Linked DNA regions of Homo sapiens. The protein of the gene in region 2 purifies or fractionates together with the protein of the main gene of each other region. This does not show direct contact. Each region holds a gene or a part of one and is shown on either strand. Other genes may lie near its edges. The genes, in order: SHROOM3, KLHL4, VPS13D, BOD1L1, GIT2 and PLXNC1.

Evidence for each region.
Region 1: the proteins of KLHL4 (region 2) and SHROOM3 purify together in Homo sapiens (affinity purification with mass spectrometry, with the first as the bait; one large-scale study listed by BioGRID). This does not show direct contact.
Region 3: the proteins of KLHL4 (region 2) and VPS13D purify together in Homo sapiens (affinity purification with mass spectrometry, with the first as the bait; one large-scale study listed by BioGRID). This does not show direct contact.
Region 4: the proteins of KLHL4 (region 2) and BOD1L1 purify together in Homo sapiens (affinity purification with mass spectrometry, with the first as the bait; one large-scale study listed by BioGRID). This does not show direct contact.
Region 5: the proteins of KLHL4 (region 2) and GIT2 purify together in Homo sapiens (affinity purification with western blotting; one study listed by BioGRID). This does not show direct contact.
Region 6: the proteins of KLHL4 (region 2) and PLXNC1 purify together in Homo sapiens (affinity purification with mass spectrometry, with the first as the bait; one large-scale study listed by BioGRID). This does not show direct contact.

Annotation. Positions count from the first base shown.
Region 1 is NC_000004.12:76,753,207-76,756,738, reverse strand, and holds part of SHROOM3 (protein Shroom3), read right to left. Parts: intron 2,429-3,532; coding exon 1,547-2,428; intron 1,217-1,546; exon of another isoform or gene 291-1,216; coding exon 1-290. UniProt on the Homo sapiens protein: Controls cell shape changes in the neuroepithelium during neural tube closure. Induces apical constriction in epithelial cells by promoting the apical accumulation of F-actin and myosin II, and probably by bundling stress fibers.
Region 2 is NC_000023.11:87,516,608-87,520,604, forward strand, and holds the start of KLHL4 (kelch-like protein 4), read left to right. Parts: upstream 1-1,194; 5' UTR 1,195-1,286; coding exon 1,287-1,708; intron 1,709-3,997.
Region 3 is NC_000001.11:12,233,004-12,236,535, forward strand, and holds part of VPS13D (intermembrane lipid transfer protein VPS13D), read left to right. Parts: intron 1-1,187; 5' UTR 1,188-1,263; coding exon 1,264-1,360; intron 1,361-3,532. UniProt on the Homo sapiens protein: Mediates the transfer of lipids between membranes at organelle contact sites. Functions in promoting mitochondrial clearance by mitochondrial autophagy (mitophagy), also possibly by positively regulating mitochondrial fission.
Region 4 is NC_000004.12:13,621,226-13,624,757, forward strand, and holds part of BOD1L1 (biorientation of chromosomes in cell division protein 1-like 1), read right to left. Parts: intron 1-3,532. UniProt on the Homo sapiens protein: Component of the fork protection machinery required to protect stalled/damaged replication forks from uncontrolled DNA2-dependent resection.
Region 5 is NC_000012.12:109,979,342-109,982,873, forward strand, and holds part of GIT2 (ARF GTPase-activating protein GIT2), read right to left. Parts: intron 3,186-3,532; exon of another isoform or gene 2,730-3,185; intron 1,839-2,729; exon of another isoform or gene 1,706-1,838; coding exon 1,611-1,705; exon of another isoform or gene 1,564-1,610; intron 1-1,563. UniProt on the Homo sapiens protein: GTPase-activating protein for ADP ribosylation factor family members, including ARF1.
Region 6 is NC_000012.12:94,242,573-94,246,104, reverse strand, and holds part of PLXNC1 (plexin-C1 precursor), read right to left. Parts: intron 2,168-3,532; coding exon 2,080-2,167; intron 1-2,079.

The DNA.
Region 1 (3,532 bases), on a different chromosome or scaffold from region 2:
TGATGTCTTCTGAACTCTTCTGAGGATCAGGACTGACTTTCTTTTCTAAACCCTGAGTTCCACTGACTGGATCATGGCTGAGGCTTTGAGTCTGGATGGGTGCTGGCTGCCCACCAAGAGACCCAGCAAGTTGGGCGTGAACGCTCATGAAGGAGGGTGGTGTGGACTCAGCCTCTGAACCCTTGATAGAAGTTTGGAGTCTGGAAGCCAGTGTCTGACTACCTACCACATGGGCTGCACCAGGCATGTGCCTTTCCCTTGCAATTGTCACTTTAGAAAGTTTGTTGAAGCTGCCAGGGATATTTAAAAAAAAAAAAAAAAGAGAGAGAGAGAAAGAGAGAGTGATAAGAGAAGGGTGATGATAAGAGGGTGGAGAAAGACTGAGGGAGAAGCTTTCCACATCAGGGCTGTAGCTTTCCACATCTTCCACATGTTACTGACAGAGCTAATGTTAAAGAATATGGCTTCTGATTATAAGTGGGTCTCCTGATACTGAACCCCGAAACTAAAAACATTTACCTACCTAGTCACAGGTCATGCTAGACACACAAACATACATAGATATATACATAGGAGTAGGGTGAGATAGTCACATTTGAGATCAACCCCTTCTTTAGAAAACAACAGCACTCTAAAGGGGCTCCTGAGCCCAGCAGCTGGTCAGGAGGTTGTCATCTCCTGAGGAAGATGGACTAGGAATTCAGTTCTGGTGAATGTTGCTGTTAGATTCCAGAGATTTCTGAAAGGTCTAGGTTAACAGGGGTAGTGGTAGTAAGTCACTCTTGTGGTGTTTAAAGAAAGCCACTCAAAAGGTGCTGTCAGGCAATGTGTTTTTTTGGTGTTTTGAGAGATTACTTGTTCTAGGGACTATGTGTTGGGGAATGCTTCTTTCTCATTCTCCTAGCTTCCAAGAGGTTTTCCCTAAACATTACTGACCTTGAGCCCTACTCTTTATTCCTCCCTATGGACATGGAGTGATTTTGGAAAGAGAAGCTGAGCATTCACATCCCAGTCTCTCTTCTCTTTTGAGACTGAGGCTGCCTCAAGGCTGTATATATTAATATCTATGTGTATTTGTGTGTCTAACATGACCTTTGATGAGGTAGGTAAAGCTGTTTAACTTGGGGGTTCAGTATCAAGAGACCCACTTACAATCTGAAGCCATATTCTTTAATGTTAGCTCTGTCAGTAATAAAAGTGATGTTTTTGTCTTCTATATGCCCTCCTCTTTTGTCTTATTTCCTAACTGATTCAGAACTCATCCAGGGAGGAGGGATTTACTTGGACCGCCTAAGCCTATCCTGTCCCCAGAAGTGAAATGTGCCCCTTGGGTCCCAGCTTTCATTTCTGCCACCCTGACTCCTCAGTACCCAATGACACTGGTCCAACTACCTCCTGAGGCAAACAGATCAACAGTGTCCTGAGCTGAGCTGTATAGAAACATCTCCATGCCAGGGTTCTTCTGTGGCCAGCAGAAGGACCTGGGCCACCTGGGGCATGACACTCTCCTGTTAGTGGGGGAAAGCTGCCCAGTCTGCTCACTCACCTGGGGCGTGGCCCCTCGGGATCCTCACTGTCCAGCTGCGCCTCACATACAGTGTGGGGAGGAGGTGGAGGGAAGTCATCCATGCTATACACCGGGGTTTCCTGACTCGGTGGAGGAGGTGGGGGTGGGGGAAGAGGTTCAAATGTGGGGCTGGACGTGGCCTTGGGGTGCGGATCCCTCACAAACACTTCGTCTTCATAATCCTCATGAGGTGGCGGGGAGTCCCGCAGGACAGACTCAGATATTCGGAGGGAGATCCTCCCTGGAGTGCTCGGGGCCCCAAGAGGTGTGTCTGGGTCAGAAGTGCTGCATAAACTTGGAAGACTCTGCTGTTTTTGATAGTGCTTCAGGTTTGCAAAATCAGGGGCTGAGGATTCCTCAGGAAGGCTGTCCTCTCTGGCTGCGTGGGCCCACTTTGCTCGAGAAGGAGGTGGCCACTGAGGCAGCGAGACCCTCTTCCTCGTTCCCTCTTCTACCCCATGCTCTGGGCCATCGCCCTCACAGCCTCTTGGACCGGGAGGCTGGGTCAGGGTGTGACCATTGCTTCTGTGCATCATGGCAGGGGTGTAGGGCGGGAGAGGCTGTCGCCCTGTCTGACCGTCCTGTGAGCAGTAGCCAGAGGGAATGGCTGAAGGCAGAGGGGTGCCAATTGGGGTCAGGGGTGCAGCCCTGGTGTCTGTGACCAGCCCTTGCGTTCCTGCCAGTGGTGGCCTGGGGCAGGGTGTCCTACTGGCTTGCCTCTGATGGTCCAGGGTTCCAGGACATTCACTAGGAACGGAGGAATCACCAATGGCTTTGCAGCCTGAACCACCCCAACGAGGGGTGAGATGGTGGAAGAGCGGCAGCATCTCTTCTTGGCCTCTTTCTGAACAACTGAGTGACCTGGAACGGCACACAGACAGGAGGGTTACAGCTCTGAAGAAAGGGGCAAACATGCAGCCCAATGCTCCTTACATAGATGAGAAAAGCATTTAAGAGGAAGGAGGACCTCTTTTCCTTCCCCCAGAAACTGCACACTGTCTTCCCTGGCTGCTCACAGGAAGACCCAAGTTAAACCAGTACTAGGCAGGCATAAATTCCTACAGGAAAATGTCACATGGAATGACTGGGTTCACAAGGCATTTTCTTTTATTAACCCTCTCACCGCCCCCACATCCTGTACACACCATGCAACATAAGGCAGCTTTTGAGGACAGGCTTCAGGCTATAAAAACAAACAGTACATTTCTTCAGCCCCTTTTAGGACTACTTCAGGAAATAGCTCCCAGCTCTGGGGAAAAATAATGCTGCCTTCTTCTCTCCCAGTGCGATCCCCACGGGGGAGGTCTGTTTTGAAAGCATTTGCATGGGCTGCTGAATTTGAAGGTTTTATTTACAACTTTTGCTTACTCTCCTAGTGTTTTCATTTCATCTGATGAAAAATAAAAAGGAGGGGGAGAGTCTCACCTAAGGAGCTAATAAGCAGTTACCTCTGGAGAAAGAGGCTGGCAATAATAAGCAAATATAGTACATGGTGATTTAAACAACTGTACGCTAGACTCCGAGGAAAAACCCAACAATTCGCAAAACTTTTGTTATTGTGTTCTAAAGGAGAAAAATCCACAAAACAAAACAGAAAAAAGAGTCTGTGGCACTACCTGCTATGCAAGAGTTAATGTGAGGATAAAAAGCTCTCCAGCAAACCCACCGTGATTTGTACATTCCCTGTCTGCAGTTCCCTGACTGGCTATGTGAGTGGATCTGGAGTGCAGATGGCACATTTCATCTCACAGATCTGACTCCTCTGAGGGAGTGGTGACTCAGTCCCACATCAGAGCAATAACACAGGGCTTGCCACAAGATCATCCAAGTGCCAGGCAAACAGAATGCAGCATGTGGTGGAAGAAGATGGCAAAGAACCAAATTAGCTCTTCTCATGCCTTTATTTTTCCTTTATTATACATAGATGCAGATGATGGAATAAAGGGCCCACCTCTCTCTCTGATG
Region 2 (3,997 bases):
ACAGTTCATTAACCATAAAGTCAAACTAAAAGCAAAATCTTACAACTTCAGTGTTCTTTCTAGTCATACACCAGTATAATTTCCCCTTTATCACCTGTATGCATGATATGAGAACTGGATAAAGTACAAACTGAATTTCAAAATGTCAATGATAAATGCATTCTTGATACATGACTGTCTTTTGTAAACATGTCCATCTGTACAAAGTAGTGATTATGATTCAGATCTCAAAGTACTTTGGGCACAGTTATTCCTGAACAGTGTGATGATTTGGAATTAATTCAAAACATACTCTGTTCATCCTCTCATAAGGGTTTTTGAACAAAGAAAATAAACCTTTAACACTGCCTGTGAAAGTAAAAGGCATGATAAGAAGGTTTGTATCCAGGCATGGAGCCAGAATGAACTATTCATTTTCAAGCTGTGGTAACTGAGAGAAGACATCTCTTTTAACCTAACTAGCTTGGAAAAGCACTGCTTTCTTCCTCCATATGTAGACTAAAAATACCATTTCTACATTCCCAAATGGCGTGTTTGTGTGAGTGGTCATGGGTAACCAATACTTTCTTACATGTTTCTAAAATCTGTCAAGTTTTCAGGTAAATATTCATATAGAGACTTTCACATTTTCAGATTAATTTTGTAAAAACTAATTACGAACCCGCATGAGGGTACTGATGCTTTCCCTTAATGAACCATTTTCAAAGTTTCCATAAAAGGAATCTCAAAATAGATTATAATGAATTCCTCTGTCGCATATTATCATGGAACAAAGTGGCACATTTTTAGAAGTGGGCTACTGAGAAATGAATCTAGCAGGGGAGGCGTGAGTAGAAGGAATCTAGAAGAAAATAAGTTTAAACACTTCGCTTTGGCTCACTTGCCTGGGTTTCAGCTGCAGCTACTGTACTTTGATACTGAAGAAGCAGGGCTAGATATTTGCAAGTCCAAGCAGGAGGGCTGCAAGCCTGCAAATCTAACAGCTGGAGAGTGTTGTGGTGGCTGCTTTCCTGTGGTAAGCTGATTTACTTGTTTAAGGTCTGACCTCATCATCCTGTCAGCATGGGTTCCCACCTACACTGTTAGCTGCAGCCTTCTGCTTCTGCTAGAAGGCTACAAGTATTCACAGTGTATCATAGGCAGTGGGGGAGGGGAGAGAAAGCAAGAAAGACTGCTCTCGGCACTTGTGCTTTTGTTAGTTCTACAGAAGAGGCAGAAAAACAAGAGATAACAAAGGCTCCGTTTCCTTTCTGTGAGAGAAGGCTTTTGTCTTTCCTCCTGCTACGATGTCAGTGTCTGGCAAGAAAGAGTTTGATGTGAAACAGATCCTAAGGCTACGCTGGAGGTGGTTTAGTCATCCTTTTCAAGGTTCCACCAACACTGGAAGCTGTCTTCAGCAGGAAGGATATGAGCATAGAGGGACCCCGGTTCAGGGCAGGTTGAAGAGCCACTCTCGGGACAGAAACGGACTGAAGAAAAGCAACAGTCCTGTCCACCACAATATACTGGCACCAGTGCCAGGACCGGCCCCTGCCCATCAGAGAGCCGTTCAGAATTTGCAGCAACATAATCTGATAGTACATTTTCAAGCAAATGAAGATACTCCTAAATCAGTTCCAGAGAAGAATTTATTCAAAGAAGCTTGTGAGAAACGCGCACAAGATTTGGAGATGATGGCTGATGACAATATAGAAGATTCTACAGCAAGGTAAGAGTTTTTGGTCGCATAACTGAATGCCGTAACTTCAGTTAACTTATCCTCTACAATTCATGTTTAGTGTTTAAATAGAAAGTGTCATAATAATCTCTGAGTTTGTATTCAGCCAATCAGAGTCTCTCAGAAACCGTCTCCTCTAAGTTTATAAAAGAAAACAGCAATAATGAATACGTCTTTATAATTACCGGAAATTTGGGGGGTGGGTTATGAGTTTACTTCTCCTATTTTCATTAAGAATTCTGTTTCAATTCTAAGAGATGTTTATTGTAATTACTAATGTTCTATAAATACACTCCGTGGCTCAGATGTTTAAATGCAATTCTTTGTGCAAGTGTTATGAATCACGGAGAACTCTTTCTGACATTGTGAGTTAGGCCAACTTTAACAAAATAAAAGCTGTGACTGATCAGCACATCCTTATCTGTTTCCTTAGTACATAGTTGCGATATTGACTCTTAAAACTGTGTTATCTTTATGTGACAATATGGAATATTTGGCGTTCGGAGACTCATTTCAAGTTGTATTACTTTCATAGCTAGTTTTTGCAAGCATGAAAATATTCTACATAAAGCAGGTAATAAGATGCTACTTACAGCAATGTGATCTTAAAGCGGGAAATGGAGCATTTCAGCTTTTACATAAAATGAAAATTGAATAAACAGTGACGATATAGTGTAGTTTGGGTATAGTTCATAAAACATTTGATTTTGTCTTTACTTTTATGCCCACCGGTATTGTTTGAGTGCAAGAAAATTACATTCTGTTCTCTAATACTGTCAACTATAACTTAACCTAGTGTATCCTTATCTCTTTGTTTTTTGCTTTTTCACTATCAGACATTTTTATAGTCCCAACGTGTTTTAGACACAGTTGATAATATTGGCAATGTAATTAATATTCAGTAGTACTATAGAAAAATAAGTGTTTTTATGCATTTTAGATCATATAGTAGTTCAACATGCTAATTTATTTGGAAACCTGGATATCTGGCATACTATGTCTCTACCTAAAAATAGAGAAGAAGGACTGGCAGATTTGCTTCTTAATATAAGTTTTCCCAATAAAACAACCTCACAGTGTCTTGCTTTCATAAATTCAAAACAGTTTATCAGAAGAAGAAGCAGCCTAATAACATTACAGCAAAATGATGCCTTTATAGGAACTCAGTCTTGTTGAAATATAAACATGCAGAAGACTTTGTGAAATGACATTAATAATAATGTTAGATTGTCTGTCATATAAACTTCTCAGGAAATAAAGCACGTATGTGTGAAATTTTCCTAAATATTTTGTGCTTGCTCGTGGAAAAGCTATATAACTGTAGGGATTGCAGGTTGCATTTGGTACAACAAATAAGACTCTCAAAGTAATATAGAGTCCATAATTTTAAATTCAGCAGGCTTTCAAATTTGTTCTCGTCACCAAGAACAATTTTTAAAAAACTGCTGAATTTGGAGATTAATAAATGAATTTAACTCTGCTGTAGGGAAATTTAAATTACCAACTGTAACTTTGGAACAAAATTATTTGAGAATACATGAATTAATTTTCTAGTATGGGAATATTTACAATAAAATAGATGTTAGAAAAAATGTTAGGTAAAATGTCACATTTAAAGCGTCATCAAGTGACAGTTTAAAAAGCGCATTTATCCTTTGATTTTATTCCTGACATTTTTTATTTTCTAAAGAAATGCCTTGTTAATTATTCTATGGTTTCATTGGAAAGCTAACGTTTTCTTAATATACATACAGGAAATGGTTTTATAGGTGTGCCAAGGATATCTTAGGCAGGAGGGGCTAAATTGAAGATCTTATTAATTGAAATACGATGGTTTATTACCTTCTCCTTAACCATTCTAAATCTTCCTGTCTTGGTCCAGCATCATTTGAGAAGGAGCTTTCTGATGCCTTGCTTCTCCAGTGCCTCTCTTCTTGAGCAATATTGAGGAGCAGGAAGAAAAGATCCCAACAAGTTGGCAGCAGGCTGCCATCCCCTCAATATGACTCCAGTGGTTTTTTAAAAAAGAAAACAGTAGTGAGTGTGGAGAATTATCATACTAGCACAAGATGAGCTATGACGCTCAGAGTAAAGTAAGGCTCTTTAAGCCATCCAGATTTCTACAAATATTATGGGGAATAAATAGAGAATGGACTAAATTGCAAACATACAATATAGCAGAATAAATCACAGTTAGTCCTGGAAGGGATATTAAAGCCAACATTGTTAAAGTTATGTTGACATGTTGGTTTGGAAAGTTAAAAATTCAAATGTATTCAT
Region 3 (3,532 bases), on a different chromosome or scaffold from region 2:
TTCTTTTTCTTTTTTTTTTTGAGATGGAGTCTCACTCTGTCACCCAGGCTGGAGTGCGGTGGTGTGATCTTGGCTCACTGCAACCTCTGCCTCCCGGGTTCAAGGGATTCTCCTGCCTCAGCCTCCCGAGTAGCTGGGATTACAGGTGCCTGCCACCATGCCTGGCTAAGTTTTGTATTTTTGGTAGAGACAGGGTTTCACCATGTTGGCCAGGCTGGGTTTGGACTCCTGACCTCAGGTGATCCACCTGCCTCGGCCTCCCAAAGTGCTGGGACTCCAGGCGTGAGCCACCACCCCCGGCCTCTTTCATGAATTTCATTCAGACAATCTCTTACGGCATTTTCTGTCTTAATCTAGGATAAGGTTTCTTAACATTGGCTCTGTTGACATTTGGGTTGGATAATTCTTTGCTGTGGGAGCTGTCTTGTGTGTTGTAGGTTTAGCAGCTTCCGTGGTCTTTATTCACAAGATGCCAGTAGCAGCCCCTAAGTCATGATAAAAAATGCCTCCAGAGATTACTAAATTATGCCCATAGGAGAACCTCTGATCACGGCAGTCTAATCCCAAGGTAAATCAACATAAGCAAGCAATGGACAGTTACACTGAAAAGATAGACAGCTTTGAATTGTAGGTAATTTTTGGTAAATTTAAGAGTGACTATTCCCTGAAGCAGCATCAGAATGTAGGTGTTTTGGTTTGGCCCTCCAGTTACTGATGGGGACATCTTACAGAGCTTCTTGCCTCATCTTTTAAAACATCTGCAGCCGGGCGCAGTGGCTCATGCCTGTAATCCCAGCACTTTGGGTGGCTGAGGCGGGTGGATCACCTGAGGTCAGGAGTTTGGGACAGGCTGGTCAACATGGTGAAACCCCATCTCTACTAAAAATACAAAAAATCAGCTGGGTGTGGTGGTGGGCAGCTGTCATCCCAGCTACTTGGGAGGCTGAGGCAGGAGAATCGCTTGAACCCGGGAGGCAGAGATTGCAGTGAGCCGAGATTGTGCCACTGCACCCCAGCCTGGGTGACGAGAGCGAAACTGTCTCAAAACAAAAACAAAAACACAAACAAACAAAACCCAACAAAACATCTGTGCTTTGCATTCATCTACCTTCAGGCAGGTAGAGGAGGAAATTGGCTTAGAAAATCATCCTGTTTTTATGTTGATTTTCATTATTTTCCTTTCATAGATTTTTCTGTGACCATGAAAGAGAGAAATAAAGAATGATCCATGATTTCTAAACACCTTTTCCTGAGGATATAGTCATGTTGGAAGGCCTTGTAGCCTGGGTTCTCAATACCTATTTGGGAAAATATGTCAATAACCTGAACACTGACCAGCTCTCAGTTGCACTTCTCAAAGGTGAGTATTTCTCTGGGTGAGATACAGCTTTATAGGTGGCGTTTCTATTTTTGTATTTTTTTTGTTGTCCTGAGAATCATAAAACCTAATGCCCAGATGGCTTTGTACTAAATGTATGTAAAAAGGTCCCATATCATCCTGATGATTTTTCCAGAGTAACTTAAGTTTATAGCTATATTGTTGTAGATTTTAAGGAACTATTAAATATTAAAAAACAAAAACAAAATAAGCTACACTACTGGTGACTGTGCTTAGTCCCAGTTAACTTTTAGCTTTATGAAGCTTTATGGAGGCAGCCACAATGTACCGACAGTGGCATTGACTTTGGCTTCAAATACTGTTTTGTCACTTATTAGCTATGTGAACAATAGCTCATATTGAAATTCCAAGCCTCAGTTTCTTAGACAGAGATAATATACCTCCAGAGGGTTGCTTTAAGGATCAACTGGAATAACATTTAAAGCCCCTAGCCTGCTGGCATATAGTAAGCACTCAATAAAAGTTTTAAAATTGATTATTGTGAGGTGTTCAACAGAATTTCTGAGGTTTTGACTTGCTTAGTAGTAGAGTACCTGAAGCTTCAGACATTTTACCCTTTACAGGCCTAGACTTGGTAAATGCAGTCCCTGATTTGGCATGGGAATTCGAAAACTGCATTTTCTCCCTTTCCTTGTTTTAATTTAAATTCTCTTTGCTCAGCTCAAAATGGAGCTTTTTAACATACGTAGGGAAGAGAAGAAAGTCAGTTTGCCACGTGTGTAAAATCATAGGAAATGGGAAGGAGACTTCAAATACAGTGAAACCTCACCTTTGTGGATGTGAGTTTTGGTAAGTGGACCAGAGCAGGTTAGAGAGAACAGTGACACAGCTGTTTGCGTAGTCTGAGAATAGAGTACCGGTGGTTCACATGTTCCATTAAATGTGTTGCTTTCCGGCCAGGCGCGGTGGCTCATGCCTGTAATCCCAGTACTTTGGGAAGCTAAGGCAGGCGGATCACGAGGTCAGGAGTTTGAGACCAGCCTGGCCAACATGGTGAAACCTGTCTCTACTAAAAATACAAAAATTAGCTGGGTGTGGTGGCGGGTGCCTGTAATCCCACTACTCGGGAGGCTGAGGCAGGAGAATCGCTTGAAACCAGAAGGCGGAGGTTGCAGTGAGCCGAGGTCACACCACTGCACTCCAGCCTGGGCAACAAGAGTGAAACTCCATCGCAAAAAATAAAAAATAAAAAAAAAGTGTTGCTTTTCATGTTTTTCTGACCAAATGATTGTGGCAGCGCTAGGCCATGGGCAGAGCCGTCATGGTCACGCCTCCCCACTCTCTTCCTTTCCTTTCCTATTCTCCTGGTTTTCCTCTTGTCCTGAAACGGGAGCTAAGTGGAAAGTGCGAGTGAGCAGTCTGTCAGGGAAGAGGATGCATTCAAAGTGCAATAGTAGTGTCAAGTTCACCTCTCTGGTCTCTTATTGAAGTTCTCAGACCCACTGTGAAGCTAACTACGTTGTATGACGTATAGATAACAGGGCCTAGAAAGAGAGCTGCAGACCACGACCCTGCTAATCAAAGAGCTGGTTCTGTCAGGAATCATGTGGCAAGAGCATTTGCCAAAGAAATGAGTAAATAGAAATGGATATCTGATGTGTTACAGAGTCGTACTAACATTTCTCAGCAGTTTTAGAATGTATCTTGTAACAACTGTGTTTATCTGGTACTTTAAACTGCTTTTCTGCCCTTATTTCCTTTCTAAAAACATTATTCTTTATGGCTTTTAATGAACCTGTGGAACTTGAAGAATGCTTCTCCGCAGGGTAGAACAATGCTTTTTCTTTTGTAACTGGTGTTAGTATGGTACCCAATGCTTATGGATCCAAAGCACATCACAGAGCGTGGCCAGAACAATCTTGGGGGCATGGAATTGTACTGAGGGAATGGCTTCGTAAAGAAGTTGGTGCTGCTTGTTCGTCTCTGACACAGTTAAGCAGTGTTTGGGAATAGAGAGGGTACTAGATAGGAATGAGAATGTTCTTTCTTTTTTTTTGAGACAGGGTTTCTTTCTGTCACCCAGGCTGGAGTGCAGTGGCGTGATTTCACCTCAATGCCACCTTGACCTTCTGTGCTCAAGCAGTCCTCCTGCCTCAGCCTCCCAAGCAGCTGGGACCACAGGCATGCACCACC
Region 4 (3,532 bases), on a different chromosome or scaffold from region 2:
CCAACACTGATGTTCTTTCTACCTTTCTTCTATACAGCTTTTAATGTGGATGAGTTTGAGTGTCCCTGACTGATATTAAGCAAGCACTGTATAGCCTCACCTTCTGCCATTTGCCTCCTTTTAGCTTCAAAGTTTACACTCCAGTGAGAAATTCTCATATCTGCACCTACCATCCTGCAACTACCATTCCCTCTGGTTGTCCATCTGACAAACTTCTCACCTTCAGAGCTCACCCTAATCTGTGAAATCATCTTGACACCGAAGGTAGGCTTATGGGCTCTTCATCCACGCTCCTACTGTTTTCTATACATGCTACCATTCGAGCAATTCTTGCACTACATTGTATTTTCGGAAGCAAGGCATATTTATCCTCCATTGATGTGTAAGCCTCCTCCTCTATCTCTCTTACAATTTGTTTTCATATAGCCTATCACACTGCTTGGCAAATGAGCAATTAAAATATACTTGTTAGCTGAATGGGTAACTATCTCTAACACAGAATGACAAACATTTTATCCCTCTGATGCCCTTTCATCAGTTCCAATTTTCAGGCCTTTGCTGATACTTATTTCCTGTCCTACATGATCATTTCCTATGTGCCTGTCCATTTATCCAAAATCGATATGAACTAAAATTAATTCTTTTTTTTTTTTTTTTTTGGCAGAGTCTTGCTCGATTGCCCATGCTAGAGTACAGTGGTGTGATCTCGGCTCACTGGAACCTCCACCTGCCGGGTTCCAGTGATTCTAGTGCCTCAGGCTCCTGAGTAGCTGGGACTACAGGCATGCGCCACCACACCTGGCTAATTTTTGTATTTTTAGTGGAGACAAGGTCTTGCTATATTGGCCATGTTGGTCTTGAACTCCTAACCTCAAGTGATCCACCTTTCTCGGCCTCCCAAAGTGCTGGGATTACAGGTGTCAGCCACCATACCCAGCCCTAAAACTAATTCTTAATTCTTTCTCCCCAATGATTCTAAAGCCTAATTCTTCTTTCCGGTATTCCCAAATCTAACACACATTCATTAGGCTCTAACATCACAATGCATTTGGCATTCTAGTCTAGTCTTCCCAGAACAAGTTCAAATCTGAACTACTCAACAGGTAATTTTCCTTGTTTTCAAGCTCTCCTTTCAGTAAAAAGTTGAGCAACTAGAGAAATATTAAGTATTCATTGAGAAGTATTCTCCTAGGAACATGTATGTACCCACATGTACACATATATACACACACACATATATTACACATACTTCCACCCTTTCTTCCTTTTCCAGTGCTTTGGTGAAAAGCCTTAGAGTTATCCTTGAGTCCTCCCTTTGTCTTCTACTTCACATGCATACTATTAGCAAATTCTCTCAACAGTAGCATGAAAATACACCCAGAATCTGACCACTTCCCACTACCTTTACTGACCTCAATCTGTTCCAAGGCATTCTCATCTGTCTGAATTATAACAACTGGCCTCATGCAGAATTCTATCCTTACCTACAACAAAGTTGTCTTCTAAAAATCAGGTAACCATGTAATTTATTGACCCATTCAAATCACAACTTAGCAAGAAAGGGGAAGCTATTACACGTGGTCAACCCATCTGAAATGGAAGTCAGATCATGTCCTTCTTTTGCTCAAAACCTGCCAATGGCTTCTGAGCTCGAGTAAAAGCCAAGGTCTTCTGATGGCTCCCAAGACCTGCCAGATCTGTGAAGGCATACCTACCTCACCTCTTGTCACTTTCCCCTTAGTGGGTCTGTCTCAGCTCTTCTATACTTGCTATGCTCTCTTCTTGGAATGCTCAAGCCCCAGACAGCTGCATTGCCCCTTCAATTCCTTCACAGATGGCTCAAGTATCATCACATTGAAACCTACCCTGAACAGCTTATTCGAAATAAAACAGTAAGCCCATCCATCCCTCATCTTGCTTTTTTCCATAGGACCTACCATACATTACTTGTTGTCTATTTTTTTTTTCTACTAGGATGTAAGCTCCATAACAGTGGGATGTTTGGTTCACTGCTGTATCCCTGGCACCTAAAAAAATGACTGGTACATAAGAGTTGCTCAATGAATGTTTGTTGGGTGAATAAATTGACCAGGGGCCATTTATAACTAAGAAAGTGTCCAAAAAATCAGACTTTCTTACTTGACAAGAGAGGTACCATATTTACCTGGCTGGCGAGCTCCCTGAAGGGCCTCTTGATCATCCCTCCTCACACGCTCCAGATGCTAATCAGTGCAAAGGAGACAGAATGGCTTTGTAACCACTAAGCTTGCTCCAGAGATCTGGAAACTGGTAGTCTATAACGGAGGAGTCTTTGCAGTAGTTGGAGCTTAGGGTTGCCCATGGTTCCATTTCTTTGGGTGGGAAGGGCTGATTTGGTCTGTTACAGTCAGATCTCTCTCCTGGTTAAGGACTATCAATGACCCTGGACAGTTTGGAGGGGGGTTCTATGGTCTTCTGGTGTAGCAGCAGACTTTGGTACTTCTCATCCTGGTTTAAACACACTAAACTGGATGACAGTTTTGCTCTTAGCACCTGGCAGGTATCAAATGTCTTCATTCTTAAATATGCATGTGACAGACATAATCCACTATAACTCTATATGCTACAAGTTAAGACTTTTTGACAGAAAGCAGGTCAGTCTTTGAGGTTCAAGTGGCAGATGAAACTCAAGGATTCCATTAAAGTGATGGTTCTTTGCATGAACAGGGAATCTTCTACTTTGGCCCACTCATCATATTGATATGAATGTTATGTTCTGATGAAGAAAACTTTGGCTTTTTGGGAAGCAGGGGGGAATATATTTTTTTTTTTTTCAAATAAGAAAATGAAGTATAAAATGGTATTCAATGAGAACAAATCTTTTAAATCAAATTAAAATCTACCTAATTGCTAACTAAGGGAGTAGAAGAGAAGGAGAGAGTCATGGGGTAAAGGAAGTACCAGAACATAACCTGTAACATAACCAGGAGCAGGTACAGAGGTTAGTGGCAGGGAGGGGGAGAGAGAGAGAGATTTTGTGGGAGAGTTTAAGCTAGCGTCTGAGCACCAGAACTTCAACCATAGCTGAGTGTTCTTTTTTGTCTGGGAGGGTGTCATTTCAGTTCTAATTTCTCAAAGCAACAGAAATATTAGAAATTTTCATAATTATTAAATAGTATATGCAACTGTATTGAAAAATGTGTATTGTTGCTTTTTAAAAATTTTTGTTTTTTAGACCAAGTCTTGTTCTGTCTCCCAGGCTGGAGTGCACTGGCACAATCTCGGCTAACTGCAACCTCTGTCTCCTGGCTTCAAGCAATTCTCCTGCCTCAGCCTCCCGAGTAGCTGGGACTACAGGCATGTGCCACCATACATGGCTACTTTTTTTGTATTTTTACTAGAGATGGGGTTTCACCATTTTGGTCAGGTTGGCCTCGAACTCCTGACCTCTAATGATCCACCCACCTCGGCCTCCCAGAAGACCAGGGTTCTGTGGTCTTCTGGTGTAGCAGCAGACTTTGGTACTTCTCATCCTGGTTTAAACACACTAAAC
Region 5 (3,532 bases), on a different chromosome or scaffold from region 2:
CTTGGCTCACTGCAACCTCTGCCTCCTGGGTTCAAGCAATTCTGCCTCAGCCTCCCGAGTAGCTGGGACTATAGGCGCCTGCCACCATGCCCAGCTAATTTTTTTGTATTTTTAGTAGAGACAGGGTTTCACCATGTTGGCCAGGATGATCTGGATCTCCTGACCTCATGATCCGCCCACCTCAGCCTCCCAAAGTGCTGGGATTACAGGCGTGAGCCACCGCACCCCGCAGAAAAAGGCTTTTTTGCACTCATTATGTACCTCCAGGTTTCAGGCTGTCATTGAAGTCCTATCAGAAGTAAGACAAACAGGACACTCACCACCAGCTGATGACACTTTTGAGTTCCCTAATCTACCAACCAGGATTTACTTTTCAGAGTCTTTAGCTAGCTACTCCAAGCATTTGGTCCAGGTCTGTTAGTTCTATTTTGCAGGAGACACGGTGGGGTGTGCTTACTCCATCTCACCCAGAACTGAAACTATACCAGAGGCTCTTAACTCTATCATACAACCAGGATGGAGAATCACTGCATACATGTATGTGAATGTTGTACATCAGGGGTTGGCCAATATTTTCTTTAAAGGGCCAAATAGTAAATATTTTAGGCTTTGTGGCCATCTGGCCTGTTGCAACGACTTAACCTATTCAACTCTGCTGTTGTTATGTGAAAGCAGCCATACACAAGGTATAAATAATTGGGCGCGGCTTTCTTGCAATAAAACTTTATTCATTTATTTTTTAGAGAGTTGGGGGTCTTGCTTTGTCACTGCACCCAGGCTGGAGTGCAGTGGCACAATCATAGCTCACTGCCACCCTGAATTCCTGGGCTCAAGTCCCAGTCTCCCAAGTACGTGGGACTACAGGCGCACACCACCATGCCTGGCTGATTTTTTAAAAAACTTTTTTGTGGAGACGGAGTCTCACCCCTCTTGCCCAGGCTACTTTCGAATTCCTAGGTGCAAGCAGTCTTTCTGCCTCGGCCTCCCAAAGTGCTAGGATTACAGACATGACCCGTTGCACCCGGCAGAAGCTTTATTTATTTATTTATTTATTTTTATTTATTTATTTTGAGACAGAGTCTGACTCTGTCACCTAGGCTGAAGTGCAGTGGCACGATACAAAACTTTGTTTAATAAAACAAGTAACTGGCTAGATTTGGGCTACAAACCATGGTTTGCTGACCCCTGTTCCCTATCACAAATAGCCAAGTTGGCTTTGGCAAAGTTTACTTCTGGACTTTTTTTCCATTCCTTAAGAAGAATTTTTCAAATAACTACAAAGGTTATTGCTTTGCTCCTACATTCCTAGTCCCACCATGTTCAAGAACTGTGGTACCCATTCAATTTTGCTTTGATTATTCAGTCTGATTCTTGAAATAGTCATTTCTCTAGAGCTATTAAAAATGAAAAATCTAAGGAGTTTTGTCCAACTTTATATCTTTTACATGTAACTGACAATTCTGTAGTTATCCTTTCAAATTAAAAGCCATATGTATAGCTTTCTCAGTGATATGTTACAGCAGAGGAGGTAATAACAAATAGTGTCCCAACTTGTTTTTCTAGAACCTTCCCAACTGGAGATGTGAAACGGTCATTCTCCATCCACTCACCTGGTTTCCTGCCACAGAGATAGAAGGCTAGTCTGTCCGTTAGCTCATACTGTATTTCCACGAGGCGCTCTGCCAGCTCATGGTGCCCTCCTTGCCTACCAAGAGAAAACAAAGTACCATTTATATTGCTCACTATTCACTGACTTTAAAATGGAGTACAAAGACGTCTCCTGAGACACCTGAGCAGTTTATCACACAAGACTTTTGAGAATCATCAACCTTCTTGTGGTAGGTAGATTTCTGAAGTCTACTTTGCATCCCACTTTTATAAACTGTTTTCACCATCTGAACTATCGCCTTTCCTTTATTAAGGCCAAAATAGAATATTTAATAAGAAATTCAAAGACTTATGAGAGGGAAGGATACAGAATGACTTAATTTAATGAGGTAAAAAAATGAAATTAATCAATGGTTTACGGTAGAAGTTCTCAAAAATTAACTAGCGCATTTCTAGAAATATACCATGTGCAGGCCCCACCCTTGGAAATTCTGAATCAATGGGGACAGGATGGGGCCAGGGGCCAATATGTTGAAGAAGGTCCTTCCCCTAGGTGATGCTGATGCAGCCAGTCTGACTCTGGATAAGAGTCTAGTAACCACTTCAAAGGCTTCAAATCAGTGAGAGACACGCCAACCTAACGCACAGCTCACGCCTGCAGCTACTTCTGCCTCCTTATCTTCAATTTGCACAACAGAAAATATTAAGTTTACCTTTCAACATCCATGAAATAAATACTTAGGCTGCTTAGAATCCTTTCAGCAACAAGGATACAAATTATATTGAGATTATTATATGCAAGGTACAAGTGCGAAAATTCCAAGGTAAGTGATAATAAGTATCATTTACCCAGGGCTCTCGTCCAAGATCAAGTATATTTTGTGGTTTTTGTCCTTAAAAGTAATGGCAAAAACTGCAATTACTTTTGCACCAACCTGATAGTTTCAGCCAGCTTCTCTCCCCACCATTCAAGGCACTCACAACACCCTTCAACCTACCACACAGCTTTGATTTGTGAGAGGCACATCTTATTTTCATTTTTTAGTATCTGTGAAATCAGGAAATGTCCTACAATTGATGATACACCATAATTTAATTGGCTGAACTCTTTTCTTTTTTAGTGCTCTGTGAAATAATGAAGCACCATGCAATACTGTACTCCTGCTGTTATTCCCAGACCCACTCTGTTCTTTCCAGTCAGGTCTCCTGCTGTGCTGAACACACTTTGTCCCTCCCTGCCTCCTGATCTTGACTCCTGCCTTTCCTCTTACCTGGAATGCTTCAGCTCTCCCTTCACACATTCAAATCCAACCCATTCTTCAAGACCAGCTGAAGAAATTTCTTAAATGATTTGGACCACAATGAAGAAACCCTATATATGCTTTTTAAGACCAATTATCTATTTTGGCAATGAATCCCATATGGTCTTGCCTCCTTGAACTCTTTCAGGCATTTATGAATCATCTTTTCCAAGAGAGTAAATTCTGGGAAGGCAGAGTTTTGTTATTCACCCATTTTATCCTCTGTGGAACAGAGTATTGTGCTTCACAGTTAATAAAAGTACTTTGGAAAAAGAAGGAAAGATGACTGATCTTTGGCCATTTAAATGATATTCAAGACTAACCTATAGATTTATTTTTCAAGGACTTTATTAATAAAGAAAAATTTAAATAATTTTACAGTGAGCACTTTTTTTTTTTTTTTTTTTTGAGACAGAGTCTTGCCCTGTTACCCAGATTGGAGTGCAGTGGCATGGTCTCGGCTCACAGCAACCTCTGCCTCCCAGGTTTAAGTGATTCTCCTGCCTCAGCCTCCCGGGTAGCGGGATTACAGGTGCCTGCCACCATGCCCAGCCAATTTTTTTTTTTGTATTTTTAGTAGAGACAGGGTTTCAGCATGCTGGCCAGGCTGATCTCGAACTTCT
Region 6 (3,532 bases), on a different chromosome or scaffold from region 2:
TCTCTTCTTTTCTCGTGGTTTCCCAGGACTCAAGACAGGACACCGAAGCCTTTTGGGTCAGAATCCTCCCCTTTCCCTAGTCTACTGCTTTCTGCATAGTCTCTTTTCCCATTGGTAACCTTCTGACTGCTTTCATTGTCACTAATTGTCTCGGTCCAGTGTGAGTCCAGTGTACCTAGACCTATGTCACTTCCTGCTCAGAGATCTTCAGTGGCTCCCTGCTGCCTACAGAATTAAGGGCAAAGTTTTCAGTCTGACGCTGCTTTTTGTGGCCCCAGCTCAGTTTTACAGCTATCGCTCTTGGTCATTCCAGACCCACCCTCTAGGTTCCCACTAAGCAGGATTGAGTGATGTTCCCAGCACGGGCCTGCGAGGACTCTGTCCTCTGTACCTGAACTCACCTCCCTGCTTCCACCCACCCCACTCCATACTGCAGGCGTACTTAATCCCATGCATGTTTAATTTCTCTTTAATGTGAAAAGAAATGGTGTCTTCTTGGACTCACAGGGTTTCTGAACAGTTAGGGAACCAGAGGACCTAGAACCTGATGATACTCTGTGCTGTCAACTTTTTTAATTTTTATTTTATAGAGATGGGGGTCTCACTATGTTGCCTAGGCTGGTCTCGAACTCCTGGCCTCAAGCAGTCTTCCCGCCTTGGCCTCCCAAAGTGCTGGGATTATAATCGTGAGCCACCACACCCAGCCTCAACTTTCAATCCCAATGTAGATTTGCTGCCTGCCTCCATGAAGGCAATATGACTATCTCACTTATCTTTTGTCCCTGCACCCAGCAAAATGTTTTGCCTGCAGTAGGTGCTCAAAAAATTCAACTTGATTTGGGAACAGCAAGTAGGAGGGAGAGCAAGTCCGTGACAAACTCAGGTAATGCCTCTGCTCAGAGGGTCAAACTATACGAGCCATTCAACTGGAGGTGTTCACACCATGGAGATGAGGCCTGGAGTCAGATACAGTGTGAGGCTTGGAAGTGGCTCTGAACTGTGTCAGCAGGTGAATGTGTGCACCACAAGGCTGTAAGGACGGCCTATCAGGCGGCCCCCGGAATTTGGGTCTGAACCCACACTGCTCCTGAGGAGGGAGTGTGTCAGCCTTGGCAGGAAGTGGTCAGGCAGGGCCCCAGAGAGGCAGCCACCTCACATATCTCATCAAGGAGAGGGAAAAAGGGGAAGAAAGAATGGGGAAGGATATTTAGAAGTGTGTGCAAGTACACTTGGAGGCCTGACTTGTATGTGAAATCCCTCATCTCCCCTCTTGGCATCAGAAGCTTCCATCTAGAGCAGCCGTGTCCAGCCTTTTGAATGTGAGGACTTTTTTGCTTATCTGTGGTGGTGGATATCACGGAAATTATGCACAAACCATTTTTTAGCTCATTAGCTATCGTTAGTGTTGGTGTATCTTATGTGTGGCCCAAGACAATTCTTCTTCCAATGTGGCCACAGGAAGCCAAAAGGTTGACACCCCTGCTCTAGAGGATCCCCATCTGGAGGCACCAGTGGGAGAATCGGGCAAAGGTGGAAACCAGACCCCTCCTACCATTTCTCCTGTGGGGAGACGAAAGGTAAGAGAAGGTGACATCAGATGGTAGGGAACAAATTGGGTCGAAGAGAAGGAGAAGCACATGACAAGATTTCTGGGACCTTGGCAAGTCATCTAACCTCTGTGAACCCAACTCTCTCTGTGCAATGGGAACAATACCACCTACTCTTCACAGAAATGCAATTCTTTATATCACACCTTAACCATTCACGGAGCATTTTCACACATATTCATAAGCATTGCCTCATTAGGGTGACTTGCCACAAATCACATAAAAAGAAAATGTCAGGTCTTATCGTACCAAGTTCATTTCTCTTTCCTCATTGCTGCAACTAGAAATACTCAGCTACAAGGATAAGGTCTTATTATTTCCATTCTAGCATGGATAGAATATATGATAGCATAGGTAAAAGTTTATAACACCAAAGTCACAGAAACAAAAAATACCCCCAACATAGCATAGTGTGATGAAAATAGAACCATCCTTGAAAACAACTATTATTACAAAGCAGCTGGAGACTTACATTTATGTTTCCTTTTAATTCATGTGAAATGATTAAGTTGTCAATTACATCAAAATTTCTGCCCATCATGGTTATATTTTGACCACCACTGCAAGGAATAAAAGCAACAATAAGGGTTTCATAGCTAACACACAGGCATTTTGCATTTATGAACAAAGCTATCAATTTATTCATGTTTAATATTAAACCCAATTATGTTTGAGAGCAAATTAATGAATTTTAATTTCAAATACAGGACAATTTTGGGAATCTTTTCAGGATACCAGCCACAAATTCATGGGTTTCAAGATGCATAAATATAAAAATTCAGGTCAGATCCTATTTTAATTCTAGGAAAATGCCCAGATTCTTTGATGGAATTTGAATTTTGTTTGTGTCATATCGCCACATATAATCAGATCAGGAGCTGTACCTTGAAAAGGTTTCACTAAACAGAATTTTGTTTGATTACTGTTTAATCTATATAAAGAGACTTCAATCTAAGAATTTTCAAAATCAAACTCCTAACCTACCAATGGTATGTTATTTAGAGAGACAGGAAACACTTTGGGCAAGGTAGAATTACAGATGACATGCAAAGTGTAAATTCCTATTTGGTACGCCGTATAAATAACAGCTGCATTCCATCTCTCTAAAACCAGGCCAAATAACTTCACGTTTCTCAGTGCATATAAGCAAAGCGGTCACTGGGTGTGAAAGAAACAGCTGTCCACAGCTCTGTCTGCCCTTGCACCCCTGTTCACGTAGGTCACCAGACACTCATTCTAGGGGACAAGAGCCTGGGTACGTCAGGTCCAACAGCCAGCTGAGCCCCTGATGACAAGACCAGGAGGTGGGCCTGAGCAACCCAATTTGTGTAGGGCAGAGAGAAGACACTGATCTCTGAATCCTCCAGCCACAATGGGGAAGGGCTGAGTTGGCCTCATGCCAGTCTGTAGCCATTACCAGAAAACCGAGCCAAGCGTGATCTCCCGATGGCCAGCATTTAGAGCCACATTCTTGCTCAAGGCACAGTGACCAAGGAGCAGCCAAGACACACAGGCTCAGAATGTCGCAGGTGACAGAACAGTAGGGAGCCTCTTACTTTATAGCAAAGCAGGATACTGCTGTGGCTCAGAGCCCAACCTCCTAGTACCAGCTGTCTGGGAGGCTGGGGTGAGTTGTTTGAACCCTTTTCCTCCCCCAGTTCCCTCATTTGCAAAAGGGACAAGCCATAGCAGATCTCATAAATTTGTTGTGAGGATTAACCTAGTCAATAGATGAACACACCAGGCACATGGGGCATGCCACATCAATGTCTCCTTTTATATGGAGAATGGAATTGGTCCTAGAGTGGGGGATGTCATGCTAGAGCCTTGGTTTTGAAATTTCAGTTCTCCTTATCTTACTATTATGGACTGAACTGTGTCCCCAAAAAATGTGTCCCCATAAAATGTATGTTGAAGCCCTAACT